Homo sapiens: one gene and its partner. The protein of the gene in region 2 purifies or fractionates together with the protein of the main gene of each other region. This does not show direct contact. Each region holds a gene or a part of one and is shown on either strand. Other genes may lie near its edges.

Region 1 (3,072 bases), on a different chromosome or scaffold from region 2:
GCCTGTTAGAGTTCCAAGTGGAGACGCTGATCAGGCAGCTGGATATTCAAGTTAGGAAAGGGATGGGCTGGAATCTGATGAAGATGAAGGAGATTCCTCAAATGCTAAAAATAAATAAATAAATAAAGAGGGAAGTTAGAAAAATTGAGTCTGTTGAAAAAGTTTCAAGGCATCTGCATTTATATCATCACTATTTTTGTATCACTTATAAAGTTCTGTGATGACTGTAAAAACTATGTGGCAACATCAGGTTCTAAGAAGTGGCTACAGGTGGTTCCTAAAGTGTGGACCTCAGGCCAAAAGCATCAGCATCACCTATGAGATTGTTAGAGATGCAAATGATTGGGCCCCACCTGACCCATGGAGTCAGCTCTGGAGATAGGGCCCAGGAAACTGTTTTGACAAGCTCTCCAGAAGATTCGCACACACATTAAAGACTGAGTGAGCTGGATGATAAGATGTTTAGTACTTCCGGGTTTTAATCATTTAAAAAGAAAAGGAACAACTTTTTCTTTTAAAGCAGAAATGTCTTTATTGTTTGAAGCATGACAAAATAAAATTGATAGGACATTTCATTTCTTACTTAGTCTTCTCAATGGGGTTATAAAAATACAATGCCACTTAGTTTTTGTAAGCTCTTGAAAATGTCCAGAAGCTCACACTTAGTATGATATTAAAAGGCACTTATAACACACAATAAGATACTTAGAAACCCATCTCATAGATACAATTGAAATTTCTTTGAGAAAAATTTCTAAATATAGAAATAAATAGGACGGCACTATTTCTTCTTTTCCAAAACACAGAATAGCATTTTCCCCATGTTACCTATACACACCATAAATGTGGACACCTCCTCCCATTTTTGTTCTTGATACAGGTTGATAATCAAGCTGAAATTAATTTGCTTGCTTTTCTTCAATTTAATCTCAATTTGGTTTAAAATAAAGCAAAATTCTTAATTTGTATCCAGGATCTTTTAGAATACCTGGCTTATTTTCATTTTGTTTTAAATCACAATTCATTAAATAGGAAGATGATGATGCAAAAATTTTAAAAAGTACTTACTATTTAGCTGCCCAAATCACCCTAAGCAACAATATTTCTGAAGCATGTGTACATACATGTGTGTATATTTTTAAATATCACTTTTGTATCACTCTGACTTTTTAGCATACTGAAAACACACTAACATAATTTTTGTGAACCATGATCAGATACAACCCAAATCATTCATCTAGCACATTCATCTGTGATAGAAAGATAGGTGAGTTTCATTTCCTTCAGGTTGGCCAATGGATAAACAAAGTACGCCATAAATTAACTAAAAAACCCACTGCCCTATGCTATATCTGTGCTATTGTTAATTAAAATAAGTGTATTCTTGCTGTGGAAATTCTGTGGTCTGGGAATTTTTATTTGTTCATTCTTTCAAGGCATTAGTAAGAAAGGATAATTTCTATTTTGAACAGAAAGACATACAACTAGTCAGATCAATAACTCATTATTGGCATATAGGATGCTATTTTGGAGGTAAGTGAATTATTTCACCCCATGACTGTCTGAATATGGTCAATCTGAAATGACTTAACAGTGAAATCCAGAGATCTGGTTACTTTCCTGGCAGGATTTGGCCTATAAATGAAAATGGACATTTAAAATAATATGGGGAAAATACAGAGTTGCTTGAATGCTTATCACTTTATTACTGCAATCATAAATGATAGTAATTTAAATTAGTCCTTCACATTGATATGTGTTTAAATTAGTCCTTAGGTATGCCTTTTCTGCCTTTTGTTCTGTTGCTCACCCTTTTAAGAAATGCCATGATAAATAGCACATGGTTGTGTTGTATGGAGTATCTTGTACTACCTTCCTGAGTGTATGTACATTTGTTCATTTATTGGGCCTCTGCCCAACAAATGAAAATGAATTTTTTATTCAGCTTTTCTGTTGGACAGCACTGAAAAGCTTTTGCTGATTTTCAAGGCAGTCTTTCAGCTTATCCTCTGTCAAAGTCAGTCGCTGCTCCAAGATTGAAACAGTCTGCAAAAAGGAGGATAAAATAATCAATGCCTGGTCCTCTGGTGGTGAGGATGACAATGACAATCTCTGCATAGGAAATCCTTTTAAGAACTGGGATGCCCACCCTTCTACCAAGAAGTTGGCTCAAAAATGAGCCCCAGAACTTGCTGTGCTTCTGGGCCCAACCATAGGGCAAGGCATTATCAAGCAGTTGGAGAAAAGAAAAGAAAAAGAAAAAACCCAAACTGATGTGTTTGAGAAAAAAAGCAGTGGAAGATCAGACCTCTTATGCCTGATCTTCTAAAGCACCAAAACCAGGGAAGAGGCCACACAGCGTTCTAAGTGGTGCCATAAGCTACACACTTAGTGGAGAAGGGGAGGGGGTGCGAAATTCCACATGCCAGCCAGATGCCACTGAAATGTCATCACTACTCATTCTGTCACAATCCAATCCATGGCAAACCGTACCTATAGCACTGCAGATGGATGGCTAGATTGCTTTGAAAATATCCTAACAATCGCCTCCAGTTCCCTCACACAGAAGATGCTAATATTACCTCGTGGAGTTGTTAGGAGGATTGAATAAAATAATGCATGTAAAATGCTTACGCTAGTGTTGGACACACACGGTTTGAATAATCCTGTACTCACTTATTAGCTGAAGGAGTTAGAACACATCCAGAATACATATACAAACACATATACATATATATATTAAATGTTAACATATGTTTTATATATATGTTAAACTTGGGATATCTAATTTTTGTGATACTGGCTACTCTGCCTTCATTCTTTTGTATCTTTTTTTTTTAAAAAAACTTATTATAAAATGAAACATAGATTATTCAGGAACCCACACAAGGTACATGTGTTATTTAATGGATTCTTATAAGAAATACATCCTCAAAACCATCACCCATAGCAAGAACTAGACTCTGCCAGCCACCCCAGAGGAGCCTTCCACGTGCCTACCACGACTTCCTTGCCCGCCCTCTGTAACAGCCACTATCCTGACCTTTACAATGATTGCTTTCTTGTGTTTCT
Region 2 (3,657 bases):
ACGCAGACGGTTCTGCCCTACACAGCCACTAGACAGAAAGCCAGGGGGAAAAACTAGGGGCCGGGGAGGGGGCCGGGGGCGGTGGGCACATAGAGCTATAAATAAATATATATATATATATATATATATATATATTTAAACAAATGAAGTCATAATAAAATTTAAAAATGCTAAGGATCTGGCCCCACAGGCCCCAAAGCTTTCACAGAGCTCCTCTTAGACATGAAGATGCCCATTGGCCTCCTAGGTCCCAGGAGGTGTGGGCAGGACTGCCCTTCCTCCGTTCTCATTGCGGGGCTCCTGAAGGGGGTATCTGAAAGTATGTAAAACTGATGGGAGGTCTGATCCTCCTTTTGCTAGCCCCTGAACTCTGTGGTGGAGTCTGGCTGATGGCCAGGGCCATGTCCTAGAGGGGACTCCCCTGCAGGAGGCGGGCTCTAAAGGGAGTGGTGTCCCTTTAGGCCAGGGTTCACAGTCGGGGTGGTCTGGAGACTGCAGGACTCAGGGCCTGGGGGTGGCATCAGTCTGGCCAGGCCCTGCGTCACTTGCACCCACCATCCTTCTACTCCAAGGCAGACTTACTCGGCTATACACAGTCCTGCCTCACCCCCTTCCATCTTAGGGTTGCCTGGGACATAGGGGAATGGCAAGCTGCTCCCATGGCGCAGGCCTCCGTGCTGGGATGCTGGGCATCCACAGAGCCTGAAGGATCGCCTGGGCTGGGCAGGGGTTTGATTGGAGGGTCTGGACCACCCCCAATCCTTTCAGCTCCCATTCTCAGCCTGATTCTGAGACCAAGACCAAAACCTCAGGGCAAAGCCTCAGCCAGTCCTGGCGTGGCCCTAAGCAGACCTGAGATCTGTGCGAGGAAGTAGGCAGCCACTTCCATGGGGCTAAAAATTAGGGCCGTAGACAGGCTCCTGGCCACCTTCACCAGGTGGGCAGCCTTGGAAAGGAGCCCAGTGGTCCCCACTCCGTCCCGATGTCTCCACACCCAGCCCCTGAGCCCATCTCAGCAGGTCCTGAACAAAGATGAGGTTACAGCCTAGAGGTACCAGGGCTTCATCTGGGGCATGGCCAGCACAGGGACAGCAGCTGAATATCCTTGGGATAATAATGACAATTATATTGCTCACATTTATTGAGCAGGTCTCTATGCTACTTCTATGCCGAATACTTTTTATAGCAGCATCTCATTTAATCACCACAATAACCTGATGAGACAGGAAGTATTATTACCCCATTTTTCTTTTTCTTTCTTTCTTTTTTTATTTTTATTTTTTTTATTTTTGAGATGGAGTCTCGCTCTGTCACCCAGGCTGGAGTGCAGTGGGGCGATCTTGGCTCACTGCAACCTCCACCTGCCAGGTTCAAGCAATTCTCCCACTTCAGCCTCCAGAGCAACTGGGACTACAGGCATGCGTCACCACGCCTAGCTAATTTTTGTATTTTTAGTAGAGACGGGGTTTCACCATGTTGGGCAGGCTGGTCTGAACTCCTGACCTCAAGTGATTCGTCAGCCTCAGCCTCCCAAAGTCCCGGGATTACAGGCGTGAGCCACTGTGCCCCCACCTATCCCCATTTTTCAAATGAGATGACTGAGGTTCAAAGTAGTTCAGTACCTGCCCCAAAGCCACAAAGCCTGTGCTACTCTGCCCCCAAGAATTAGTGATTTCCAGGCTGTGCCTGGCTCTGCTAGCTAGCAGCTGTGTGACCTTGGCAAGTCCGTTTGCCTCTCTGAGCCTATCTACCTCCTCTGTATAATGGGTCTGGTAGTCTTCACCTACCTCACCAGCTGCTGTGGAGCTCCGACGAGATGGTGACTGTGAAAGCACTTGACAAACTGAAGGCACTGGACATGCCTTGTGGTCAGTGTGGCCTCAACCCAGATGTCCAGTGATTTCCAGGGCACAGGGGCTTTGAGTGGGATGGCCAAAGAAGACACCTCCATCCAACTGGGAGCCACCCCTGGGTCACAAACACTCCATTGCTTGGTCCCTCGCAGTAGCTCGAGGTCAGAAGTTGACTGCAGCTTGATTCACAGCCCCTCGCTCAGAGCAGGGAGGTGGGACTGGCAGCACAGCAAAGACATCGCTCCTTGGGGGCCTCCCTGTTGCATATTTCAATTAAGGCAGGTTTACAGCCCCCCAGCGTCTGTCCGGAGGGGGCCTGAGCAGCAGGCCTGGCAGCACCCACTGCTCCTGCCTGAAGAGGTGCTATCCAGCCCCGGCTGTGGACATACAGTGAGATTGTACAGGCCGGTCTGGAGCAGCTGCAGGGGATATGATCTGGATAAGACTGAGCAGACCTAGGAGGCTCTGCAATGTAGAGCTTATTCCTCAAGCTCATGGTGAGATTGGAGCCCTAAAGAGTTAGCCAGGGTGCAGCCACCAGTGTGGAAATCCAGGGATGGCGCAGGCCATGGCCAGCTCTTCCCAGCTCACGTCTGAGAACCAAGGGTCTGAGCCCCTCTATCAGCCCCAGGAAATCCTCAGCCATTTGGTGCTGATCAGCGATAGGGCTCTGGTTCACAGGATGAGTGCCAGGGGCTCCTCTGGGGAGAGGGGCCAGCTGCATTCCGCCCCACCCTGAGAGTGAGAAGGGGGCAGTCCCCGACCAGGAATGGGCCTACCTGGTGCTAAGAATGGACATAACAGTTCTCCCTCTGAGGCTTGCATTTCATCTGTCATGGCAAGAGCACTTTCAGGCTCACAGTTTCTCATCTTTTCAACAGTCAGGGAAAAGAAACCTATGGAATAGTTCGCATTTCACAGAGGAAGAAACTGAGGGCCAGAGCTAGGGGTCTCTGACACAGCCATGGGATCCTGCACCCCACACTGGCTCTATGTGACTCTGTAGTAGTGGCTAATGTCCATCAGTCGCCCCCTGCTCCCCTGCCTGGCCATTTGCCCCCAAATAGGGCAGTGGTGGGAGTATATCCTGGAGGAGGGGGAAGTGGGATATAGGTAGTACTTGGCTGACTTCACAATTTTGCTACACCCAGTCTGGACCTCCTGACAGTGGAGTGGGATCCCTGTGGCTTCCTTTTTCTTGTTTTTGTTTTGTTTTGTTTTTTTTTAGATGGAGTCTCCCTCTATCATCCAGGCTGGAGTGCAATGGTGCGATTTCAGCTCACTGCAACTTCCACCTCCCAGGTTCAAACAATTCTCCTGTCTCAGCCACCTGAGTAGCTTGGACTACAGGCACCCGCCACCACCCCAGCTACTAAGTTTTGTATTTTTAGTAGAGATGGGGTTTCACCACATGGCCAGGATGGTCTTGATCTCTTGACTTTGTGATCTGCCCACCTTGGCCTCGCAAAGCACTGGGATTACAGGCGTGGGCCACTACGCCTGGCCAATTTTTTTTTGTTTTGTTTTTTTGAGATGGAGTCTTGCTCCATCTCCCAGGCTGGAGAGCAATGGCGTGATCTCAGCTCACTGCAACCTCTGCCTCCTGGGTTCAAGCGATTCTCCTGCCTCAGCCTCCCAAGTAGCTGGGATTACAGGCACCCACCATCATGCCCGGGTTAATTTTTGTATTTTCTTAGAGATGGAGTTTCACTATGTTGGCCAGCCTCATCTTTGAACTCCTGACCTCCGATGATCCACCTGCCTTGGCCTCCCAAAGTGATGGGATTACAGGCGTGAGCCACCG

What was found. Proteins that work in one complex are often made in the same cells at the same time.
Region 1: the proteins of INSYN1 (region 2) and POC1B purify together in Homo sapiens (affinity purification with mass spectrometry; one large-scale study listed by BioGRID and IntAct). This does not show direct contact.

Annotation. Positions count from the first base shown.
Region 1 is NC_000012.12:89,419,212-89,422,283, forward strand, and holds the end of POC1B (POC1 centriolar protein homolog B), read right to left. Parts: intron 2,047-3,072; coding exon 1,942-2,046; 3' UTR 507-1,941; downstream 1-506.
Region 2 is NC_000015.10:73,736,317-73,739,973, reverse strand, and holds part of INSYN1 (inhibitory synaptic factor 1), read left to right. Parts: coding exon 1-57; 3' UTR 58-3,657. UniProt on the Homo sapiens protein: Component of the protein machinery at the inhibitory synapses, probably acting as a scaffold. Inhibitory synapses dampen neuronal activity through postsynaptic hyperpolarization.